Linked DNA regions of Homo sapiens: region 1 is linked to region 2. The links come from fine-mapping of genetic effects on gene expression. A gene starts in region 2. The other region holds a variant in brackets. All regions are shown on one strand. Distances are between the middles of the regions. Region 1 holds the start of ZFHX2 (zinc finger homeobox 2). Region 2 holds the start of TGM1 (transglutaminase 1).

The links.
Region 1: its variant is fine-mapped to the expression of TGM1 in caudate (GTEx, PIP 0.97).

What each region holds. Positions count from the first base shown.
Region 1 is chr14:23,541,182-23,556,834 of GRCh38, reverse strand. ZFHX2 (zinc finger homeobox 2) reads left to right here and starts at 5,070. Exons shown (of 10, transcript NM_033400.3): 1 at 5,070-5,492. It overlaps THTPA (thiamine triphosphatase), which reads right to left and starts at 564. Exons shown (of 2, transcript NM_024328.6): 1 at 1-564. The coding sequence starts at 77. RefSeq lists enhancers at 432-691, 4,717-4,766, 5,616-6,278, 8,402-9,025, 10,898-11,522 and 1 more and a silencer at 4,897-5,136. The variant G/A (reference allele first, on the strand shown) is at 8,537.
Region 2 is chr14:24,258,474-24,268,292 of GRCh38, reverse strand. It overlaps TGM1 (transglutaminase 1), which reads left to right and starts at 5,116. Exons shown (of 15, transcript NM_000359.3): 1 at 5,116-5,204; 2 at 5,939-6,259; 3 at 6,410-6,598; 4 at 7,595-7,843; 5 at 8,235-8,353; 6 at 8,482-8,589; 7 at 9,044-9,218; 8 at 9,620-9,758. The coding sequence starts at 5,941. It overlaps RABGGTA (Rab geranylgeranyltransferase subunit alpha), which reads left to right. Exons shown (of 17, transcript NM_182836.3): 12 at 95-183; 13 at 335-423; 14 at 517-633; 15 at 1,404-1,517; 16 at 1,776-1,863; 17 at 2,530-2,755. The coding sequence ends at 2,678. RefSeq lists enhancers at 4,633-4,641, 9,142-9,819 and promoters at 2,611-5,128, 3,511-5,177, 5,738-5,933, 4,188-5,941, 2,941-5,941.

The DNA.
Region 1 (15,653 bases), 710 kb after region 2:
CCCAACTCCTGCAGCCGCTCCTCTGTGCCAGGCCCTGGAAGGAACTTTCGCTCCACCTCAATCAAGCCCTGGGCCATGCTACCTGCAATTGGCTGAACAAACGTTTGCTGAGTTCCCAAGGATGCAAAGCCTGGTGCTCAGCTCCTGGGGCGTCAACTCAGTACAGAACCCCTCCCTGGAAAAACTTATGAGGGGCACACTGTGTCGCAATAGTCTCTAGGGCTACTGCCCTTTTCTCTCTACCTCGGTGACATTAAGGCCCCGTCGGTGATATTTTAAGGCTCTGACAGTGACAGGTCTCCAGTAAAATCCCTTCCACTGCTGCTGATGTCCTCAATCCAAAGAGACCCCTAGAAAGCAGGCCGGGTAGCGGGTGTCCTTTCAACGCCCCCCTCTCTACACCTTGCCACCCCAGGAGGCTACTGGCTCACGACCCGGGAGGACCTGCCCTTTCCTGCTACACTACCGGCCAGCGGAACTTCAGGTCTCACCTCAAAGCCCGAGAGTCTCCTCGCGGGACCCACAGAGGGGGAAGGGAGCCCACGCCATACACTCGCGAGGAATGCCGGGAGCAGTTCCGGATCCCGGACCTCGGCCCGACCCTCCGCGCGCCCGGCAGGTCCCGGCACCAGCGGCCATATTACGCCCGTTGTGGCGGTGCCGAGAGCAGGCCAGGGCTCGAGACACGCGCTATGTAATGGGAGGCCGCGACCCCCGCGGTGGCCAGGGGAGCGAGGCCGCCCCTTGCATTCTGCTCCTCATTGTTGGCCCCGCACGGCTCCCGGGGGCTGGTACAGGTCTCATGCCTGAGGCTGAGCCAGGCACCCCGAGGCGCGGATGCATGATGGGAGATGTAGTTCCAAAGGGAGACTTTGCCATCTCGCCCCGCCCGTCGCTATGGCGACAGGAAAGCTGCACTTGGTGCCTGCGGTACTCTACCTAAAGCTGAACTGGGGCTACAAGGCGGCGGGGAGAGTCGGGTGCAAGGAGCTCAAGCCCCAGTCCCGTCTCCAACACCCCCCGCCGCACCCCCAACGCAGGCAGATGGGCCTGGAATACAAGCCATTCACACCGTCCAACAGATATCTGCTATAGCAGCCAGCTAAGCGCAGGCCAGTGGCAATGGTGGCGAGGGGGGTTGGGGTGGGGGGAGGGAAGGGGGCGGGGGCAGCGCGTAATAAAGTCCAGTTTAGCTACTCTGGAGTTTTAGAGGGGATCTAATACCTCCTGGCATGAACGTTGAGGGTAAGAGTGGGTGAGAAACTTTCTGTCAGAGAATAAAGTGGTATTTTGGCCAGGAACTAAAGATATGATGGTATTTCAACAGTTGGAGACCTAGATGGAGACAGGAATAGCCTAAGCAAAGGCCCAGAAACTGGAGAGCACCTGGGTGGTACGTAAGGAGAAGACGAGGCTAGAAATGCAGTTGAGGGAAAAGCCTTGAGTGCTAGACTGAGGAGTTTGTCAGAGTTTCCAGCGGTCCCTAAGCAGTTTTTGTCAGGTGTAGAACTACTTATGTTCATTTAGAATACAGAAAGGCCGGTGCGGTTGCTCACACCTGCAATCCCAGCACTTTGGGAAGCCGAGGCAGGTGAATCACCTGAGGTCAGGAGTTCGAGACCAGCCTGGCCAACATGGAGAAACCCCCCCGGCCCGCCGTCTCTACTAAAAATGCAAAAATGAGCCGGGCATGGTGGCGCGTGCTTGTGTTCCCAGCTACTCCAGAGGCTGAGGCATGAGAATTGCTTGAACCTGGGAGGCAGAGGTTGCAGTGAGCTGAGATGGCGCCACTGCACTCCAGCCTGGGCGACAGAACGAGACTCCATCTGTCCCCAAAAAAATAAAATTCAGGAAAACATGGGGGTTGGCCCTTTGAATGCTTTGGGAGACAAAATATTAATAGAGATGATTCCTTCTTACTCCCTCTGAGGACTATGGTTATCTGGAGACTCTAACTATATGTCTGACCTTCCATGTGAGGAAGCTCCCTGAGGAACCGTGGCTCTTAACTCCTGGACTCCTTCCTATGATGGGTGAGAAGTGCCATGTTCTCAACACCTGCCCTCTCACCAGTATGTTTCTGGAAATACATGACCAGTGAGAGGTATTATAGGGAGAAGGACACTGGTTTAAAGACATGGCATTTTGGCCAGGTGTGTTGACTCACACTTGTAATCCTAGCACTTTGGGAGGTCGAGGCAGGAGGATCATTTGAGGCCAGGAGTTTGAGACCAGCCTGGGCAACATAGGAAGACCCTGTTTCTACAAAAAAAAAAAAAAAAAAATTTTAATTAGCCGGGTGTGGTAGTGCATGCCTGTGGTCCCAGCTGCTCAGGAGGTTGAGGCAGCGGGATAGCTTGAGCCCAGGAGGTCAAGGGCAGTGAGCTACGATCCTGCTACTGCCTGCACTCCAGCCTCGGCAACAGAGCAAGACCCTGTGCATAAATAAATAAACAAATGGCATCTTGAACTTGGAGTAGCTTGGGTCAACCTCTGTCCCCACTCCATGTTAAGCACTGTTGGTTAGGGAGAGAAGAAACCCCAGCTCCTAAAGCCTGCTTTTCATCCATCTTTTGCTTTCCGGTTTTGTTAACCTGGGATGAAGACCTAATTTTTCCTTATGTTATAAGATCCAATCCAGTGGGGCAAAAGCAGCAGCTTATTTGAACAGAAAGACCAGTTTCCGGAGCCAGACCTGAGGTCGACTCCCAGCTTCACTTTCTAGATGTTTGGCCTTCCGCAAGCTACTCCACTTTCCTAAGCATCTGCTTTTTTTTTTTTTTTTTTTTTTTTTTTGAGACAGAGTCTCACTCTGGCGTCTCAGCTCACTGCAACCTCTGCCTCCTGGGTTCAAATGATTCTCCCGCCTCAGCCTCCTGAGTAGTTGGGACTACAGGCACGTGCCACCCCACCCTCCTAATTTTTGTTTGTTTGTTTGTTTGAGACGGAGTCTCGCTTTGTCGCCCAGGCTGGAGTGTAGTGGCGCCATCTCGGCTCACTGCAAGCTCCGCCTCCAGGGTTCATGCCATTCTCCTGCCTCAGCCTCCCAAGTAGATGGGACTACAGGTGCCCACCACCATGCCCGGCTAATTTTTTGTAATTTTAGTAGAGATGGGGTTTTACCCTGTTAGTCAGGATGGTCTCGATCTCCTGATCTTGTGATCCACCCGCCTCCACCTCCCAAAGTGCTGGGATTACAGGTGTGAGCCACCACGCCCGGCCTGTTTTTGGTTTTGAGACGGAGTTTCACTCTTGTTGCCCAGGCTGGAGTGCAATGGTGTGATCTTGGCTCACCGCAACCTCTGCCCCCCGGGTTCAAGCGATTCTTCTGCCTCAGCCTCCCGAGTAGCTGGGATTACAGGTGCCCACCACCACGCCCAGCTAATTTTGTATTTTTAGTAGAGACAGGGTTTCACCATGTTGGTCAGGCTGGTCTCGAACTCCTGACCTCAGGTGATCTACCCACCTCAGCCTCCCAAAGTGCTGGGATTACAGGAGTGAGCCACCATGCCCGGCCAGCCTCTGCTTTTTCATTGAGAAAATGTGGCCTGCCTCACAGTTACCTGTGAGGATTCAGTCATAAACTGTCACATAGTATAAACTCAAAATGTTCATTTATCTCTCCTTTTTGTCATGTGAACTTCAGGGTTTTGTTGTGTTGTTTAAGAGAAGTAGGCTATAGCAGTTAGTATGGGCCCTGGAGCCAGACCATGGAGGTTTTTGAGTCCTGGCACTGTCACTTACTTATTGGCCATTGGACCTTGGGCCTGTTAATTCACTTGTTTGTGCCTTAGTTTCCTCAATAAATGAGACTATAATAGCATCTACCTCATGCTTGAGGTATTGAGAGGAGTAAACAATGTATGTAAAAGTGCTTGGAACTGTCCCTGTGCATTCAAGAAATCTTAAAAATTATTATTAGAATACAGGAGCGGCCGGGTGAGGTGGATCACCCCTATAATCCCAGGACTTTGGGAGGCTGAGGCCGGTGGATCACCTGAGGTCAGGAGTTCGAGACCAGCCTGGCTAAGATGGTGAAACCCCCGTCTCTACTAAAAATACAAAATTAGCAGGGCATGGTGGTGGGCACCTACAATCCCAGCTACTTGGGAGGCTGAGGCAGGAGAATCACTTGAACCTGGGAGGTGAAGGTTGCAGTGAGCCGGGATCATGCCACTGCACTGCAGCCTGGGCGACAGAGTGACTCTGTCTCAAGAAAAAAACAAACAAACAAAAAAACGGGCTGGGCGCGGTGGTGGTTCACACCTGTAATCCCAGCACTTTGGGAGGCCGAGGCAGGCGGATCACAAGGTCAGGAGTTCGAGACCAGCTTGACCAACGTGGTGAAACCCCGTCTCTACTAAAAATACAAAAATTAGCTGGGTGTGTTGATGCATGCCTGTAATCCCAGCTACTTAGGAGGCTGAGGTAGGAGAATCGCTTGAACCCGGTGGTGGAGGTTGCAGTGAGCCGAGATCGCACCACTGCACTCCAACCTGGGCGACTGAGTGAGACTCCGTCTCCAGAAAAAAAAAAAAAAAAAAAATTCAGGAGCACTTAATAAGCGATAAACTGAAGATGAGGAGGAGCCCGAACCTCCCCCAACCCAGCTCAGGGGACTATGTAACCGTGTGGAGGAGGCAGAAGCTCTCAGAGACTAAAGAGTAATTGCTGCGGTAGAGAAGGTTCTAGTACCCAATTTCGCGGGGGGAGATGGGGGAGGCGGAATAATAAGGCAGGAAGAAGAGAATGAAAAAAGGAGGCCTTGGGCGGCTCAGGGCTTGTTCTGAAGCTGATTTAAAACAAAACAACAAAACACATGTATGGTTTCTGCAGGCCACAGGATGAAGAGGAGAGGAGACGGAAAAGAGTTTAAAGGGGCCTGCCCTCTTTGCAGGCACCGGCTTGAACCTGGAGGCGACCTGGTGGGCTGGCCGGCCTGCCCCCGGCCCTGGGTCCCGCGAGGCAGGCGGGCGGGCGCGAACAGACTACAACTCCCGGCATGCGCCGCGGCGGGCGGGTCGCTGCACCTGCTCAGTGGGGCAGCCCCGGGCGCCTGGGTATTGATTATTCCATTGTGTGGGACGCCTAGACTCCAGCCAGTGAATGAGGCGGAGGAGTGAGGGCGAGGAGGAGGAGGAGGAGGAGGGCGAGGAGGAGAAGGAGGAGGAGGAGGAGGAGGCAGGGAGCGAGCGAGTGCCCAGGGTGAATCAATGGAAACCCCCTCACGAAGCCGGGGAAACACTTCAGCCGCAGCCAAATAGCATTGATTATTTTCCTTCACTTCCCTCACCGCCGTGAATTTATTTATTTATTTTTTTCCGTCTCCGTCCCTGACGCCCCGGAGCGAGCGCTGGAGGGAGGGAGGAGGAGGGGAAAAAAGAGGAATCAACACATCGGAGAAGTCCCTTCCAAGAGCCGCCCCCTCCCCTCCCCGCCTCGCGCTGCTCGGTGGCCGCGGTTCGACTCCCGTCCCTGCTTCCAGCTGAGGTGTAAGTGCATCGATTTCCGATGCTGCTGGGTTGGTTTTTTTCTCCTCTCCCTCTCTCTCTTCTTCCCTTCCTTGCTCTTTGGAAGCTCGAGACGGGAGAGGAGGCGCTTGGAGACTGCCGCTGGAGGGGACGGAGAGGGACGGGAAGGGGCTGGGGGAGGGGACAAGGACGGACGGACAGACAGACCGAGAGCCCTGGGAGATAGCAGACAGGGGTGTGGGAGGAAGAGGGCGTGCGCGAGGATGGGGGAAGAGAGATGCGGGGGTGGAGGGAGAAACGGGAACGGGAAAGGCAGAGGCCCGCCGGACAGACGAAGGGTATGGAAAGCCTAGACGGACCGCGCCGAGTTGGGCAGGGAGCGGGGATCCCGGGGGGAAGGGGAGGCCCGGTGAGTGTGAGGGCTCAGAGCTGTCAGCCTGGAGGGTCCTGGGTCTCGGCGGCCCCCCGCCGGCTGTGGGATGGGAGAACCGCGGCCGGCGGGCTGATGGATGGGCTAGCGCGCTGGGGCGTGGAGTGGGAGGGGACGTGGATACTCTCAGTCTTCGTTCGTTTTTGGCTGAAGTTGGGCTTTCCATTCCTTTTTTTGAAAGTGTTGAGTAGGTGAGGGGAGGCCATAAGCCCATTCAAGGTGAAGCGTGTCTGTCCTGCACGCCCATCCTACCACCCCCATCCGCTCGTCTGCCCCTCTGAGCAGCCCTATCATTTTCAAGCACAGGACCACGCTTCCTCGCTGTGCCTGTAGCCCCGCTGATCTCTGTCCATGTGTCCCTGACTTTTGGTTTTGCTGTTCTTCATCTTGTCTCTTCCATCCCATCCATCTCTGGATCTGTATGTCACTGTCTCCACTTGTGACCCTTCCCATCTGAGTGATCCTCTCCTTGTGTGTCTCTATCACTATGTGTCACGCCTTGGCTGCCTGTTCTGTCGGTCTAGGATTCCATGCCCTCTCCTTCAGAGTCTGTCTGGATATCTCTGGCCTTTTCAGGCTACTTTGGAATTTGCTTATCAGTCATGATTGTGGTGGTCACAGTCAGGGCCTGGAGGAGTGGGATGATGGAGCAAATGTGTCTTCGCCAAAGCCTCTAGTGCCTTCAGCATGGCCAGGACAGCCTCCTCTTCCACCATCACCAGAGAAGCTTTGGAACTTCCTAGCATTGTTGACTGTCCCCTTTGCCATGTGCCTGTCTCCCTCATCAGAACCTCACCTTCTGGTCTCATGCGTGTCATCTGCCTTTCCAGGAGCTTCGCACAACAAAACCTCTTCCCTGCTGACTTAATTTTACTCCCTTCCCCCACTGTATCATTGTATATTTTTTATTTCCCCATTTTGCTTCACCCCTTTTTTCCATCTGTTTCCCATGAGCTCTGAGTTTCCACCTTTGTTCCCATAATCTGCCCTCTTCCTACCTTTTCTTCTTGATCACCCTAAGTTTCTAGTTTCTTTTATCCCTTTTCCTCTTATCCAGCATTTTAACCCCAGCAGCAGAAAGTACCAGCAAGCAAAGGGCTGGGAGAGGTGTGGGGTATGGTTTGTGAAGGCACATAAACAGGCCAAGAAATAAATTTAATGAGCTTCCAGGGGCATATAACCCCTCCATCAGTCAGTGCCATTATGTCAGTTAACTGTCAACTTTGATTTTGTAAGGGGACATTCCCTAGGACTCTAAGCTCCACCCTGCCTGGTTGCCCCCCATCCTTCAGTTCATTCTAGATATCAGTTGCTTTTTCTTCACTTTTTAGTTCATCTTCTTCCTAGGCCCCTGCTACTATCATATTTAGATCCAGCACCATTTTTTTTTAATGAGGCAGTGTTTATTAGTGTAATAAAAGCTATCGTATGTAAGGAGCCAAGTTCATTTAGCCTGAAGAACAGTAAGGGTGGATAAAGGATCTGGAGAGTTTACCTTAGTTTTTAGCCCATCATTGTTTTTCCAAACCTCAGGAGCTTGGAAAGGTAAAAGGAGCAGGCAGACATGGGCAGAAGATGGACGATTTCAGAGGTGAACAGAATTAAAGAAAGAAAGGGGTGGTCGGTGCAATAAACACATGGGGTAGAGAAATGTATGACGTGAGGGATGTGCAAAGGAAGGGAGGAAAATCTATGCGGACTCGGGGGCAGGGGAGGAACCAAGGGGTGATTAATAAGAAATTGGAAGAATGAAACAAAACGTGTTGATAGCAATACAGAAGGTAAAAGGAAGAGAAATGATAGAATATTCCTAAAGTGGAGGTCAACAGAAAAAGCACTATGAAATTAATACAGTAGTAAAGAGGGGGAAGGGAGGAATTGCTGAACAAGATGAGATGGGAAGAGAGTATGGTACAAAGAAGGTAAATGGATGGCAAACGAAGGAGTGCTGAGGCAGATCAGAGCTGCACAGAGCTTGGTAGGAGGAAAAGAGGAGAGGATGAGGTATCAAAGGAAACAAATGCCTCTGGTGTGAGGAGGACACAGCGTGACTGATGCGAAGAGAGCGAGAGCACTGCGGGGGCGCCGGGGGGTTGGAAAAAAAGCATAGCACAAATAGCAGGAATACCACTGGGCGAAGCCCCAGAAGAGAGAAATGCCCAAGAGAGGGAGAGAAAGCAGAAATATCCAGGGAAGAGACAGAGAGAGAGAGAACCTCACGAGCATTCATTTCATTGGCCTAATCACTCACTACCCCCACGAAAGGCCTTTGTATTTCATTCCCAAGCCAGAACACAAGCAAAGAGATGAAAAAGTAGAATTCCCATAAACTTCAGCTGAGAGGAACTTGAATCTTCCCAGCCCCTGAGAACCAAAGACCTCAAGCCTCTGATGTCATAAATTGCTGGTATTGCCTTGGCAACCTGACAGGGTTCCTCCCTCCATGATGTCAGAGGCAGCTGGTGTTACCTTGAGACCCATACAGGAATCACTTGCTGCTTTGCCGGGGTGCTGTATCACCTACGGGCCAGGGCCTGGGTCGAATTGGTAGGATTTCTGACTCTGGTAGCTTGACCTTGCCTCCCTGGAGCTCTTCCCAGCTCAGAACAACAGTTGTCACAAATAACTCCTGTTT[G/A]TGAGCACCTGAGGTTTGCTAGAGCCTGACAGTAGCAAGAGGAAGGAACCTAAGACAGGGCATTGAGGTCAGGATGGTTGGATCAAAAGGCAGGCAGAGACGGAAGAGGAGGACTAGAAATGGCAGTTACAGAATGTGAAAGGAGAAGGGCTTTGTGAGTGGGGAGGAGAGTTGTTGAAAGTGTAATGGCTTTGGGTTTAGGAATGGAGACTAAAGCTAGAATGCAGAGGGAAGGGATCGGGGCTGTGTGAGTGTAAACTCATTCAGGGATTGAGAAAAGGGAAGGGTTGTGAAATGCCAGAGGGCACAGTGGAATTTGGCTGTACAGAAAGGGGGGAAATGGGACAGAGTCCCCTAGTCTGAGAGACTTAGCTGTCTGGTGAGAGACTCAGGGTTAGTCACATGGTCATCTGAGGAGTGGCTACATCTGTCTAGTTTCCAATTGTTTTCCAGCACCTAGCACAGTGTCTGTCACACAGAAAAGGCTTAATAAATATCTACTGATCAAACGTTGAATTAGTAGGGAGAGGCTGGGGGAAAGAGTTGCCCACCTAATTTTCACCCACTCCCCCCACCTAAGTCTACATTAATGGGCAAACTGGGAAATCAGAAACCGGAGGGAATGGCTGGAGGGTAGTTAACCAGTGACAGTGAGATCTGAGGCAGACAGGAGAGACTGGGTTAGGGTCACACTTGGAGGCAGCCAGGGGAACTCTCAGGGCTCATGTGCAGAGTCTTTGTAGTGATAATTGGAGGAAAACATGAATGAACAGCCCTAGGAGCCCAAGAGGAAGATGTGGAGGAGGGAAGAGAAAGGAGGCGGTTTCCAGAAAAGGTTGAGAGTTGTTTCCAAAGAGAGAGTTGGCAAATGTGAATTAAAAGTAGCATCCCCACCCCATTCCCAATCATGAAACTACAATTGAATTGGTCATAACCGTATATATACAATGGCCGCAAATAAGGAGTTCATAAATCAATACCAGACCCATTCTAAACACCTATCCCAAGCCAGGTAATTATTAATACAACGAAGGCAGCATTGGCCATGTGGGCCAAAAGGCCAAAGGAGGGAGAAGTTACTGCTGCCCAGATCTTGATGTAAAGAACCCTGTGAGGGATGGCCTTGACATCTGACTCTCCATTGTTGAAAGACTCCAGAGGTATCTAGAAGAGGGGGAGGCAAGAGATGTAAAACTCACCACAACTCTCAGAGCAAAATCTGCAGAAAGAGGAGGTCTAAATACACAGAAGCTATAGAAAACAAACATGCACCCAATCAGGAATCACGAGGTGAAGGGCCAAAAAGCCCCTGAATGGGTTGAGAAATCTACAAAAGAAGACAGGGGAGAGAGCTGGGAGTGCTGGAGGACAGTCTGGCTATAATAAGCAAGGCCAGGGCAGCTAAAGAAGGGGCTGGTGGGCGGGGGGCCTGAAGGAAGGACAGTGGTGGCTGTTGCACTGTCAGCCACCGCCACGGAGTTGGGCAGCTCATATTTTGCAGCAAGCGACAGGCTGTCGACACAGTGGTCCTTTACCTCACCGTTAGAAACTCATTTCATTGATTTTTCCATCTTTCTTCTCGAGCTCCTCACACTAAGCTCGGTCAGCCCACCACCCACTTTCCCAGAGCCCCTTGCCTCTCTGGGGAAAGTCCTAGGGAACTGCCTGCCCATCCCTCCTCCCCAGGCTGGCAAGGCAGGGGTGAAAGATTTAGAAGTAACTTCCAGCCCCGTAGGGTAATCCCATGGGCTCTCAGTGGCTTCCTCATGTAGGAACTAGTCCAGAGACCAGGGTCCTCATGTGCAGTTGTTAAGGGGTGACAGGGCTGAGGTCCACCCACAGTCCTGTCACCAAGCTGTACCACTGGCATGGGGGCTGCATACACCTGGAGGAAGATATATTTTTCTAATTTCTACTGAGATGCTCAGCACCCCTCAGCATTTTTTACCCCAAAGTCTAATGAGAGAACAGGAGCCCTCTTTCTGTATTTGGCAGGAACACAGGATTACATCAAAGCTAAAGTTCAGGCCTTGGAATTCCCAGCAGGACCATCAACTGGAATGTCGCATGCACAGGGGCCTGTGCAATCAGAAAGACATGAATGTTCCAGGGTGTGCAAGACCTCTCTGCAGAGCAGTTTATGCATGGAGAGTCTGGTCCTGTGGAGCACGTTGATGTGCAAAGTCAGTGGGGCAGAATGGGTGTAGGCAGGAATTTAACTTCATGTATGCACATTTCCCTAGTGCCTCCTCCAGTCATAGCTAACTGCCCTGGACCTCTCCCTTTGGGGCTGGGCTTGGGCTAGAGGTCAAGAGTCAATTACCAGTCATTTGGCTTCTCAGTGAAGGAGGGCAGAGGGTGGGCCAAGAGTGTTAGATTGTGTTTCCCCGAGGACCTGATGGGGTAAACGCCATTTCCATCCTCAGATTTTTCATTCCTTGTTTTGTGATGCCCTTTTCTTTCCCTAATCTCAAGCCTCTGTCTTCTTTATTCCTGGGCCATGGGCATGGGTCTAGATTTTGCTGCTTCTCTTGCCTCCATCACAGTTGTCTGCATTTCCCCCCAGCCATCTCTGTGTTCTGTATCAGTGGTCTGCTTGGGCCACAGATGCCTTTCTTCTCATCTCCAGCTTCTTCAGGCTATGTGGTTTCCACAAACCTACAGATAAATCCTGCTGCTTTAGGGAAAGAAGTGCACTTGAAATTAGAGAGAAGGCCAGGGAAGGATGAGAAAGAGGTTCTGGAAAGATTAGGCAGGGAGAAGTTGGGAGAGAGTATGACAGAGATAGGAGTCAAAGGTGAAAAACCCATGACTTGGAGATGGGAGAGAGCACAGAGAGATGGCCACAATTTAAATGAGAAAGGAAGGAGTGCAGTAGGCTGTGAGGACTAAGAAATTGGAGAGCAAACAGGAAGCCTGACCCCTCCGCAGGGAAATGAAGACAGCTGAGGAGGGCGGACGAGTGGTTGTGTAAGAAGTAGGGCTGAAAAGCCAGGCCATGGTCTCGGCCTGCGTGTCAGTCCTGAGTTCAAGCAGTGCTGGCTTTGACCCTTATGGGAGGAACTGAAGTGGCAAATTAACGACGATAATGAAGTCACTGCTCCTTGTTTGTCTTTGCTGGTTTCCCCTTGAGATTTGTCCTTTGGCCAGACAGGGCAATGTGGGGGAGGGGAGGAACTGGAGCCGTGAAGGGCGGGGGAGAGGGAAGGAAAAGAGGATGGAGAAATGGCAATGTGGAGGACAAATTGACTAGAGGAGAAAAAAGGGAGGGTGATGAGTGAAGAGAAGAGGAGCCCAGAATCGAAGAGAGAAGCGGGAAGGGAGACATGAAAGGAGAATGAAAGAGGAGAGGGGTGCAGAAAAACGGCCAGGGAAAAGAACAATGGGGGACAGGAAAGGGAAACCTGGTAGGAGGAGCAGAAAAAAAAGGTGGGAGAAGGAGAAGTGGAATGGAGAAATGGCGAGCCGGAGGGAAAGAACGTGGCCAGGGCTGCAAAAGCTGCAGCTGGCAGGGCCAGTGGGCGGGGCCTCATCTCCATCTCTAATGGCTGTGAAATGAGGTTAGCGCCATTAGAGGCAGCGAGAGTGTAACGAGATCACACTCATTAGGGCTGGGCCATCCCAGTAATTACCACCACCCTAAACACGCCCGCGCCAGCCGGGCCAACCACATACGGGCTCACAGCAACACACTGAACAGGATACCCTACTACTGAAAGGGAAGCACAGGGCCCACACACGTGTACATGGAGGGCCTGGGAAAATCCAGCCAGGGAGAACAAGCACCTTCACCAACCCCAAAGAAGTACTGGGACAGGGCTACAGCCAGGTTACCAGCTGCCCCACATACAATCAAAAAACAACATACACATACCCCAACACAGGAAATAAGGCATATGGATGAATAATTATTCCATTTCCATTTATTGATACACCCAAAGTGCCAATCTCAATGATGATCCTCTCAATGGACTCAACTCCATGAGTTCCCCATTCCCTTTTTTTTTTTTTTTTTCTGTTTTCTGTTTCTGATGTGTTTGTTTTTAGACAGGGTCTCACTCTGTCACCCAGGCTGGAGTGCAGTGGTGCAATCTCGGCTCACTACAACCTCTGCTTCCCGGGTTCAAGCGATTCTTCTGCCTCAGCCTCCTGAGTAGCTGGGATTACAGGTGCATGCCACCACGCCCGGCTCATTTTTTTTGTATTTTTAGTAGAGACAGGGTTTCACCGTGTTGGCCAGGCTGGTCTCAAGCTCCTGACCTCCAATGATCCACCCACCTCGGCCTCCCAAAGTGCTGGAATTATAGGCGCGTGCCCGGCCTGCCCCATTCTCTATATGAAGAGACTAAATTGAGACTTTACGCAACTTACCTGAGGTCATTTACATATTAAGAAACAGAACTAGAATTTGATTCCAGGTCTGTCTGACTCTAAAGGCTATTTTTTTTTGTTTTTTGAGACAGGGTCTCCCTCTGTTGGAGGGAGAGTGCTTGTCTGATGAAGTTCATATGCTAATATGGATACACATGTGTAGACCTTCAACTTTAAGAGATGTTGTCACAAATGGGTACACATATCATTCAAAGAACACTACCCGCCATTATCTATCCCTTCCCTCCTGTTCCCACTCCCTCCCTCCCGCTCCTTCCCTTCCTTCACACAGGGCATGGCCAGTGCCCCTGCATGGACTGCAGTGTGAATGACGCACCCTGGAGTTGCGCAAAGCAGTGCTCCTCTTCTGGTCCATCTTATACTAAGAAACAAACCAAATGGAAGACAGCCATCTAGCACCTTCAGGCGGAACATGATAGCACATATGCTCAAGGTGACACACAGAGTAATACAATCAGACTCAAAAGACCTCATTCAAAATGCATACCAGCCAGAGTTCAGAAGCTTACAAATTAACCCAAGAGCAGAGGTACTGACATCAGGCTACCTGAGTTCCAATCTCAACTCTACTTCTTTTTAAGCAGGAGATCTTAAAAATTACTTAACCCATCTAAATCAGTCTCCATGTTTGTAAAATAGGAATGAATAGCTACATCTATTGCATCAGATTGAAGTGGAGGATTAGGTGATGTGATACTTGCCGAGGGCCTAGCACGGTGCCTGGCCCATGGCAAACATTTAAAGATGTTAGCTATTTACTATTATTACAATTAGTTTTTGTTGTAATACTATTTAAATGCAGTCATTACATCACACAGGTTCACAGAATAAAATAACCAGAAAGACTTATTTACATACACGGTCACTCAGAATGTTTTCCTTCCAGCCGGGCGCAGTGGCTCACGCCTGTAATCCCAGGCCAAGGTGGGCGGGTCAGGTAGTCAGGAGATAGAGACCATCCTGGACAACATGGTGAAACCCTGTCTCTACTAAAATACAAAAAATTAGCTGCTTGTGGTGGTACGCGCCTGTAATCCCAGCTACTCGGGAGGCTGAGGCAGGGGAATTGCTTGAACCCAGGAGACAGAGATTGCCGTGAGCTGAGATCACACCACTGCACTTCAGCCTGGCAACAGAGACACCATCTCCAAAAAAAAAAAAGAATGTTTTCCTACCAAGTTCTGGGAGACCAAATTCTTCAGCGGTCCCCCATGCAAGGATCAGATAGGATCCTGATTCTGAATTTAAGGGGACAACTCCCTGAGTGCTCATACAGAAGAAGGGTTCCGAGCTGGTTCGTGGTTGTCTAAGCCTGTGGTATGTAGAACGAGAGAACCACATCTAGCAGGATGTGAGTCTCTCCAGTGTACTATAAAATCACATAGATCTGTGCAGCAGAGCAGCTCCACACTGCTGTCCTAACACATCCAACACTTTCCAAGTCATCAAGGGAGATGCCTCCTCTCCTGGACACCCACCCCCATCAGTAGCAGACACTCTGCAGCACACCTCAGCAAATCCATGCAAATGTGAACGTGTGTGGTTTCAGCCTACCGCTTCCCTTCTCCTCCTGTCTGCTCCCTACCACCCCCATCTTCTTCCTGAGCCTACCCTTTTCTCCTCACACCTCACCCAATCTACTCATGCCCACCTTAAGCATCTTGCAAAGTGCAAGAGACAGCCTCCTTGCCACCTCCTTCTCACTGGGGACAGGCCACCATCCCAATCTGGTGCCAGAGCTGGGAGGCCTGGAAAAGATTCAATATATGCAAATCAAGACCTAGCTTCATCTTCCTCTTCACTTCCTTACCTCTCCCTCTCTCCTTCCCTTCTTCCTCCCTCCTCTTCTCTGCCTTAGCGATCTTTCTTTGCCCTTTACAACACTCCTTTTCCTGCTTGTCTCATTCCCTGCCATACTCGTTCTTTCTCTCTCTTTTGGACAAAACTTATTTGCACAAAGTAAGCTCTCCTTAAATATTTATAAAAGGGGAAGGGTCTAGAAGAGATAGGTAGAATTAAAAGGGAAGAATCAAAGTACTGTTTGTTTTCTTTTTAAATATAGAAGGTAAGATTTAGAGATGATAGAATGATAGTTTTAAATGCAGGGATGACTTGGAAAGGATCTTTGGAAAAAAGAAAAAAAGAAGACATGCAGGGAAAGGCCAGAATAGTTTTGATCCACTTATTAGCTGCTTCTGTCCAAATGTGAGCCTGGGCACAATTTCTACTCTTTGCTCTGGAATAATGGGTCTCTCTAGACCCAGCAATCAAGAGGGCTAAGAAGTGAACTCTATGGCTGAGTAGACTAGATTTAAATCCTGGCCGGGTGTGGTGGCTCAGGCCTGTAATCCCAGCACTTTGGGAGGGCGAGGTGGGCAGATCACCTGAGGTTGGGAGTTTGAGACCAGCCTGACCAACATGGAGAAGCTCTGTCTGTACTAAAAATACAAAATTAGCTGGGCGTGGTGGAGCCTGCCTATAGTCTCAGCTACTTGGGAGGCTGAGGCAGGAGAATCGCTTGAACCCAGGGGTGGAGTTTGCAGTGAGCCAAGATCGCACCATTGTACTCCAGCCTGGGCAACAAGAGCGAAACTCCGTCTCAAAAAAAAAAAAAAAAAATCCTGTCCATCTAAGATTCTGCCCTCAGTTGAAAAGGGCAGAGATTAGAGGATGAGTCTTGGTCAAGAAAGGGGTGAACAGAGGCCGGGCGCAGTGGCTCACACCT
Region 2 (9,819 bases):
GCCTCAAGGAGCTGTTTCAGTCTAGATACTGGGAATGTTGACCAGTGCTTCAGGGCTGTGGGCCTCAACTCCTCCCCACCCTGCCCACCCTCAGGTGTGAGCTGTCAGTGGAGAAGTCCACAGTGCTGCAGTCTGAGCTGGAATCCTGTAAGGAGCTGCAGGAGCTGGAGCCTGAGAATAAATGTGAGGCCCCATTCCGTGAGAGTCTGCTCCCAGAGCCCGCTGAGGAAACCCCTTTCCAGTGTGGCCCTGAGAGGACAGCAGGAAGGCCTCAGGAGGATGGGAGCAGAGGAGGTTCCAAGAGAAACCCTCCTTTTCCCTGCCCTCTCCTCAGGGTGCCTGCTTACCATCATCCTGCTGATGCGGGCACTGGACCCCCTGCTGTATGAGAAGGAGACCCTGCAGTACTTCCAGACCCTCAAGGCAAGTTCTGTCTGCAGAACAGACCAGGGGGAGGCCCAGCAGGCAGGAGGCAGGCAGCTGACATGCATACCCTGCCCACCTCATCCACTCCAGGCCGTGGACCCCATGCGGGCAACGTATCTGGATGACCTGCGCAGCAAGTTCTTGCTGGAGAATAGCGTGCTCAAGATGGAGTATGCCGAGGTGCGTGTGCTGCACCTGGCTCACAAGGTATGGGCTGCCATGCATGCCTTCCCCTGGCCCTCATCCCGCTGGCCTCCCCACGTCCCTGACTTTGCCCCCAGTCTCAGGTGCCTTTGTGGACTTCCAATCAAGATAGAGTTCATCCCTGCCTCCCAGCTTGCTCCTCTTCCAGGCCTTTCTGTCACTCAGCCCATTCTTCTTCTTGCCACTCACTTTCAAATCCCGAGTCACCAGGACCTCCTTGTGCTGTTTCTTCCCCAGGCTGGTCACAGCTTCATCTTCCTTCAGAGTGACCGCTAGCCCACTCCTCCCACACATTCCAGCACATCTCACCCTGGAGCAACCTCCAATACCTGAAGGCCAAATACTTTCCAGAGATTCCTGAGAAGTTGTCCAGGCTCCACTTTCCTAGTCCTTCCCAACACATTAGTTTTATCACATCACCACAGCCCACCTCCATTCCTGCCAAACTCATCTCTGCCTCATCAGGACCAGTCCCCATGGGGGACCAGTCTTTGTTTACCCAGCACCCTCCACTGGCCCCTGTACCTCCGAACTCCAGGCCTCCTCCTCCTCACCCACCCCACTGGTTACCCCACTCGCAGCACTGTCTGTCCCACGTCATGTACTGCTGTGGGCTGTAAGGTCAGCTTCCCACATGCTCCCATCCTCTTCTTGGCTGGGGTCCCCAAGGGCCTGTGGGGCACAGAGGGCATGTGCCTAATAAATGCTGGCCGAGGACCCTCTCCCAGGTCTCCTGGGAAGCCCATCACCTCCTTCCTCCCTTCACCCCCCAGGATCTGACAGTGCTCTGCCATCTGGAACAGCTGCTCTTGGTCACCCATCTTGACTTGTCACACAATCGCCTCCGAACCCTGCCACCTGCACTGGCTGCCCTGCGCTGCCTTGAGGTAAAGTACCCATGTCTCCGTCCCTGTCACGGGTGGTTCTTTTCCTCTTCCTCTCCCTCAGAAGTCTGCCCATCCTACAAGGAGATGTGCAGGACCCTCCACCCCGAACAGGTAACTGCGTGCCTTCCACCTCCATCACGCAGCCTGACCCTGTGAGCCCCTCTGTGCTCTGTGGACCCGTCACCCTGAGCTCCTCAGTTGCTGAACCATCCCTGGCTGACAGCGCCTGTCCTGCCTCCCTGCCCTCCCTGCCCCCAGGTGCTGCAGGCCAGTGATAATGCCATAGAGTCCCTGGACGGCGTCACCAACCTACCCCGGCTGCAGGAGCTGCTACTGTGCAACAACCGTATCCTTCCTTCTGGGTGCCTTTCAGACAGTGGGTAAAGTGAGGTGCCACCCTGGGAAGGGACAGACAGCAGGCAGGGTATGTGCCACCCTCTTGCAGGGCAGGAGAGAGGGGGCTCTGTAGTGTGAGTTGAAGGGGGAGAGCCTGGGGCTGTCGGGCTATCACTGACCTGCACTGGTGGAGTTGTGCGGAGTGGACTTCCTCAAGTCAGAGTTCACAAATGGGCAGCCCGCAGCTGTTCTTCAGGTCTATGTAGTTTTTTGAAAATCAGGAACTTTCATACTTTAAAAAACATCTAGAGTTCTAATTCCTCTCTTAAAAATTGGAAGTTAGAGCAACCTTACACTGGTATTTTCACTCAGCAGCCCTTGGTCATTGCTGAATAGTAAATGTCTCTTTGGACCAGGCTAGATTTCCACCTTATCATACCCTGCACCACTCCCCTGATACTACACCAGCTTGCGTGGGGTGTTGCGGCTCATTCTTTCCTGGCTGACCCTGTGGGTAGGCATTTGCAGTCCCTGCCTAGAGCCTGACTCCCTCCAGGGAGCATATGAGATGCCCATCAAACAGACTTCCAGGCAGCAGTCCCCAGCTCTTGAGGGTACACAGGAGCAAATAAATTGGGAGGAACCTGCCAAGCTTTCCTTGACTCTCCTGAACAAGGCCTCCAGCAGCCTGCAGTGCTCCAGCCTCTTGCCTCCTGCCCCAGGCTGGTCCTCCTCAACCTGCAGGGTAACCCGCTGTGCCAAGCGGTGGGCATCTTGGAGCAACTGGCTGAACTGCTGCCTTCAGTTAGCAGCGTCCTCACCTAAGAGGCCCTGCCCCCTACCCTTGCCCTTTAACTTATTGGGACTGAATAAAGAATGGAGAGGCCCTCTCAGGCTACCAAGCTGTTGTCGCTGCTATCACTACACCACCACCTTCATCACTTTTATTTTTTGAAAAGAAAGGGAAGAGACATGGGGTGTTGCCAGCTCCTTCTTTCTGCGCCATCCTATTGTTTCCTCTCAGAGAGAGCCAAGGCTTCAGTGTTTGGGGCAGAATTCAGGGTGAAGGCTGAGCTTTTGTTTACCTTCTGGTTTGGGGTGGGGGCTGGGACTGGGTCTAGATTCCAAGCAGGAATAGGGCTTGGGCTCAGGTTCTGGCTCTGGTAAGCTACAGAGCAGCTGTGAGTTTCTCCAGCTGGAAGCATCATACAATTTTTTCCCATGACCCCTGCACCTTCCACATGTTCCCCCTGCCCTGGCCCCCATTCACCATAGCTGGGGAGGCTCAAGGGCTCCACGTTCCCAGGAATGGGCCAGGGTGTCCTTGCTCCGTCCTGCCTGAACAACACTATCGGTCCCCATGAGTAGCATTCTACGGTTGAAGTACCTTTGAGAATACTTGATACCATTTGATCCTCACAGAGTCTCAGGGATGAGATTTTTAGGCCCAGTGTACTGATGAGGAAACTGCTGTTGAGACTTGCCCAAGGTTCTTGGCCGGAGCGCTTCAGCACTGAAACCAAAGTTGTCTCTACCCTTGGTCTAGGATTCTAGACTCATGTTCTTGCTTCTGTATTGCTAAGGAATGGTTGGGCAGCGGCCTGGCCTCAGCTCCTTGAGGTCCTGAGCTGAGTGTCTGCTCCCATGGTGTCCCCCCACACATACCATGTACACACCTTGTCCTGACCTAGAGAGTCCTGAGTGGTGGTGGGGGGAGGGGACTGGCTCAGGGGTTAGGGCACTGACTCAAACCTGGCTGGGTGGGGAGAGAAAGATTGATTAAAGCTAGGGAGAGAGTGTGACAAAGGCATCCTACTGGTTCTCTGGGATCTGCCTGGGCCCACATGTGCTCACACACGTCCGGACAGCCAGGGCCCTGCCCCTTCCCGTATCTGCAGTGATGCACAAATCCGCAGCCCCTGCACAAAGCCCTCTGGCTGACCTGCCTGGAAGTTTATATCCACTGGTGTGTCTACTGAGGGTGTTGGAGGTGGGGCACCTGCCCCCACCCCCGGGCAGGTTCTGGTGCTTGGAGCTGGACAAGAAAAGGCAGTGTGGGTGTGGAGGGCTCCCTGCCAGTTCCTGGGGCCTCTCTGTCCCCACTCCCCACGGCACCTCCCTGCCTGATGCATCACCAAACAGCCCCTCCTGGATTCTGTTTCCTTGTGTCTTCTTGTCGGCCTGTTTTTACTGTCTTCTGCTAGGCGGCCCATGGGCAGAGCTGGGACACTAGTGGGAAGGAAGGAAAGAAGGAAGAAGGCCCTGGCTGACGGGCCTGAGGACAAGACCCAAGGAGAGCCTCCCTGAAGATGCCTAGCCTCCTCCTCTCTACCTTGGGATCGCCTTGGTGCCATCCTCAGTGTTTCCCCAGTGACGGGGTGGAGTAAGGATGCACACAGCACAGGTGCCTGAGCCGGTTGGTCTGGATTCCCAGGAAGAATTCCAGGTTGGAGAAAAGGGAATCCTCTAGTCCAACTGAGCAGAGACTCCTCTCAGTGAGAGAAAGGTACTCTGTACCCCTGGAAGGGGGACTCAGTTCCCACCCAAGCCTGAGTGGAAAGGCCTAAACATCCCCTAACCCCCGAGGCTACAGCGGGGGTGGGGGACGTGAAATGAGATTGCTCCTACTCTGATCTCCCTAATCCCAAACTTGAGGGCAGCTCACTCATGCCTGGGGCTGTAGAGCAGCTGAGAAAGAAGGGACAGACTTGGGGGTGGAGGGAGTCAGAATATCTGGTAGAGCCAGCAGGTCAGGGGTTAGCTGGTGGAGCCAGTCTGAGGGCCTGGCTGCTGATGTCACCAGTCTGCAACCTGGGATCCCAGGACCTCCCTGGGCAGGATGAGTTCCAGGACCAGGCCCCTGGGCCAATTTCATAGGGCTGAGCCTGGCTTGGGCTGCACAGAACTCGGCAGCAGGAGCCTGTGAGAGCAGAGGTAGGCAGCCTAAGCTTGGGACCAGAAGGTCGGCCAGACAGGGCTGTGGGTGGAAGGGCCTGCCTGCCCCACTGCCCTTGCAGCTTCTTCATCCGGGAGAAGGGGCTCCTCACATGCCCAGTCTGGTAGGAATCAGCCTGGTGCCAGGGGCCATCACAGCGGTGGCTCCCACCAAAGCCCAGCCTAAGCCCCCAGACCTCACCCCTGCTCCCTCCCTAGCATCTTCTCCCCATTTCCCGCCCAGAGGCCTGGCCTCTTCTCTCCGCCCCCTACAGCAGTTTGGCCCCTCCCTCCCACATAAGTCACTTACCAGGTCTGTCCCTGCGGCATCCAGTCTGTGGGTCCTGTCCCATCCATCCTGACCTGTTCCATCTCAGCCCCAGGACTCAGTACTGCGGTTGCCAACACTGCTGCCAGGTGAGGGGCTCCCACGGGTACTGTGGTGCCGAGTCCAGGCGGCCCACACTATCAGAGGCCGTGCCTGGATCCAGCAAGGTGGGGTGTGGGCCAGCTGTGTACCTGTCAGCCCCAGCTAGGCTGTTCCCAACACCAAGACTCTGCTTTCCCTGTGCACAGGCTCCGGGCACCTGCCATGCCCTACCCCTCCTGGCAGCCCCAAGTGGGGTCTTCCCTGACTTGGGAATGCCAAGGACCACAGGCCCCGGGGTCACTTGTCTGTCTTGTGAGGAACCTTGAGTTGGGGGATTTCTGCTAAGAAATGAGTTCTAGAAGCTGTCAGTGTTGTGCACCTCTAGACTGCAGAGCTAGCAGGTGGACGGACCAGGCCCAGGGATGCTGGAGCACTCTGATGTGTGTGCAGCTGGGTCTTGAGGCTGGGACAAGTGTCCATGCAGGGAACTATGTGGATTTCCTGGGATGGATCGTTGAGTGGGTTTCTTCATTGGGCAGTTTTTCGGATGTTGTTTGGTGGGGGTGAGGGGAAGGCTTTTCTCTGCAGCATGAGAAGCTTCTCTGGGTGAGTCTGAATGGTCTTCGCGGAAGGTCTCTGGATGTGTCTGGAGAATCTCTGGGCCAAGGTGGGATTGTTTCGGTCATCGGGTGGGACTGAATCAGCTGTCTGGATGGAGGGTTTCTGGGTCAACTGGCTGGGACTACCTGGGTTAAGGAGCCACCCTGCCTCTTCCTAACAGGCATGATGGATGGGCCACGTTCCGATGTGGGCCGTTGGGGTGGCAACCCCTTGCAGCCCCCTACCACGCCATCTCCAGAGCCAGAGCCAGAGCCAGACGGACGCTCTCGCAGAGGAGGAGGCCGTTCCTTCTGGGCTCGCTGCTGTGGCTGCTGTTCATGCCGAAATGCGGCAGATGACGACTGGGGACCTGAACCCTCTGACTCCAGGGGTCGAGGGTCCAGCTCTGGCACTCGAAGACCTGGCTCCCGGGGCTCAGACTCCCGCCGGCCTGTATCCCGGGGCAGCGGTGTCAATGCAGCTGGAGATGGCACCATCCGAGGTGAGGCCGGTCTGTCCTCCTCAGCTGAGAGCTAAAAGGCTTTAATGGGACCAGAGACTCAGCCTGGCATTTCTGGGGGGGATAGGAAGCTAATGATAAGGGCCTGGGCTCCTCATGGGGCTTCACTGACACGGAGCTGTGTCCTTGCAGAGGGCATGCTAGTAGTGAACGGTGTGGACTTGCTGAGCTCGCGCTCGGACCAGAACCGCCGAGAGCACCACACAGACGAGTATGAGTACGACGAGCTGATAGTGCGCCGCGGGCAGCCTTTCCATATGCTCCTCCTCCTGTCCCGGACCTATGAATCCTCTGATCGCATCACCCTTGAGTTACTCATCGGTCAGTGGGGCTTGGATTGGGACGGGTGAAGGCCCTATGTTTGGTGGGGAGAGGCTGGCATTAGGGTCAGAGAGGTCTTTAGGCTCCTCCCTGCCCCACTCCTCACCTCTGCCAGATAAGGCAGGTGCAAGTGTGTGGGTGTGCCCCTGGGGTTGTGTCTCAGAGAGGGTCTTGGTGTTGCAGTTTTTCCCAAGCCCATCCTCCTCAAGCCTCCTGGGGCATCGGTCTCAGAGTACTCCTCTTCAGGGCCTGCCTCGGTGCCTCCTTCGGCATTGCTGCTCTGTCCTTTGTGCATCTGTTCTCATTCCCCAGGATGTGGCTGGTTCTCTCTTCTATCTCTCTCTCTCCCTCTTGCCTTCCATGTCCCCCATCTCTGCCAATTCTGTCTCTCTCTGTCTCTGTCCCTCTGTCCCCATGACCCAAGGCAGGTGCCTCCCTTACCGCGTTGCTTGGTGTAGCTTGACTTCTCAGGCTGGTGATTATGCTGCTGCCTGGGGCAGGTGACTCCTTTTACCCTTTGATTAGGGCCTAACCTTGCCCACCTCATCCTTTAATTTCCCAGGAACCCCTACCACCTCCACCAGGGATGCCCTGGGCTCTGGAAGCTGCAGCCCCAGGAAGCAGGCAGGGTTGGCCTTCAGGATCAGGACTGCCCTTTCATACGGGGCAGGTGGATCTGCCCCTCCAGCCCAGGCACTGTGATAGTCAGGCAGGCAGAAGGTGACAGGAGCCCTCGTCTCTCCTCCCCACCTCAGAGTTCAGTGTCAGGGGAACAGGTTTGGGATGTTGGACTGCGGCACTGCCCTAACATGTGGGCAAGCATTGGGTGGAGACAGAGCTGCTCTAAGGGAGACTGTCAGAGAATAAGGTGATGGCCCAACGTAGGGACATACACAGTGGCTCATACACATTGTGGGTGGGGCCGGGAGAAGTCCCAGGCTCCATCCCCTCTCCTCAGGGAGGCCTTGCCAGCTAATTGCTGATTTCCTACTCTAGGAAACAACCCCGAGGTGGGCAAGGGCACGCACGTGATCATCCCAGTGGGCAAGGGGGGCAGTGGAGGCTGGAAAGCCCAGGTGGTCAAGGCCAGTGGGCAGAATCTGAACCTGCGGGTCCACACTTCCCCCAACGCCATCATCGGCAAGTTTCAGTTCACAGTCCGCACACAATCAGACGCTGGGGAGTTCCAGTTGCCCTTTGACCCCCGCAATGAGATCTACATCCTCTTCAACCCCTGGTGCCCAGGTGAGCAGCTGGGGTCTGGAGCAGAGGGTAGATGGGAGGGAAAGACAGGGAAGGGCTTCCTGCCCTCGGATGTGGCGGGGTGCCTAGGTGCCTGACCCCAGGAGAAGCCAGCCTCCCATTGGGCAGATGAGAGGACCGAGGCCTGGTGCAGAAAGGTGGCCAGCCCAGGGTCACACAGCCAGCCACACCTCTCCTGGCAAAGGCCCCTGGCTACAGCCAATCTCCTCCACCATCTGTCATGCTCCCCGTGTCCTCCCACAGCAGTCCTGTCAGGCTAGGGGCATCCCCGCATTTTCTTCTGTGGACATGAGTCCTGCAGAACTGGCCAGAAGTAGGTGAGGCCCAGGGAGAGAACTGGAGGGAACCAGTTTTGTGTGTTCTGGGGACACAGAGGACATTGTGTACGTGGACCATGAGGATTGGCGGCAGGAGTATGTTCTTAATGAGTCTGGGAGAATTTACTACGGGACCGAAGCACAGATTGGTGAGCGGACCTGGAACTACGGCCAGGTATGGTGCGGCTGGCCAGGGTCACATACACCCAGAGGAGCTGGGGTGGGTGTGGGGGCTGGGGTATTGGAGCAGGGTGCTGGCCTAGGGTTCAGGCTGTCACCTCTGCCCTCCATCCCTCCTTCCAGTTTGACCACGGGGTGCTGGATGCCTGCTTATACATCCTGGACCGGCGGGGGATGCCATATGGAGGCCGTGGAGACCCAGTCAATGTCTCCCGGGTCATCTCTGCCATGGTGAGCACCCTCACATCTCTGAGTCCTACTGTGTGTGTGCCTGCTGCCTCGCCACACCCCCACCCTCCTCCTGCCCTTTCTGGATTCCTCAAGAACCCCCAGCCCTGTCCCTGCCCTCGTAAAGGATACTTCAGGAAGGGGTCTCCCTCCTCTTCTCTCCCTTGCCTGCCCCCCACCCCGCCTTTCCTGGCTCCTGTCCCAGCTCCTGTGGAATGTAGGGCCAAACCCAAAACTTGGCACACCCAGGATTCACATTCCTGTGTCAGAGCCCGGGTGGGAGGGGGGCAGATGGCTGAGGGAAGGGCTGGGTGGAGCTCAGGCTGGTGTCTGGATCCTGAGGCATTTAGGGGTAAGGGGTGGTTGCAGGATCGGGGCCCGGCTGGTCCCCATGGACCACATGGCAGGTCCTGAGCCCCTCCTCCACCTCCGCCCTATCTCATCCTGTCCTGGGCAGGTGAACTCCCTGGATGACAATGGAGTCCTGATTGGGAACTGGTCTGGTGATTACTCCCGAGGCACCAACCCATCAGCGTGGGTGGGCAGCGTGGAGATCCTGCTTAGCTACCTACGCACGGGATATTCCGTCCCCTATGGCCAGTGCTGGGTCTTTGCTGGCGTGACCACCACAGGTAGTGGAGGGACTGGGACAGGAGTGGCCCGGGCCCTACAGGGAGAAGGGAGGAAAGCCAGGCTTACCCAGCCCTGCCCAGATGTGGCTACAGTGCAGGGTGCAGGCGGGGGTGGGTAATAGGCTGGCCTTAATTATCATTAATTAGTGTTAACAACAGAGAGAGGCCTAAGGGAAAGGAGGGAGAAGGGACAGGCAAGGACTGAGCCAGGCAGGTGGCCTAGCTTCCCCTGACCCCAAGTGCTCTGTAGCCCAAAGGCCTTGTGGCCCCCGTGGCCCTGACCCTGGCAGTCTATGCCCAGCTTGGCAATCCTAGTTGCCCTTCTCCCCCTGATACTCCTGACACGATGCCTCACTTGCCCCCAACCCATGCCTTGAACCCCAACCTTCGCTCCTCCACAGTGCTGCGCTGCCTGGGTCTGGCCACCCGTACTGTCACCAACTTCAACTCCGCCCACGACACAGACACATCCCTTACCATGGACATCTACTTCGACGAGAACATGAAGCCCCTGGAGCACCTGAACCATGATTCTGTCTGGTGAGCTGGGGTGGACTGCCCATCTGTGCTGAAGAATGGTGACCTGAGCTTTGGAGGTGGA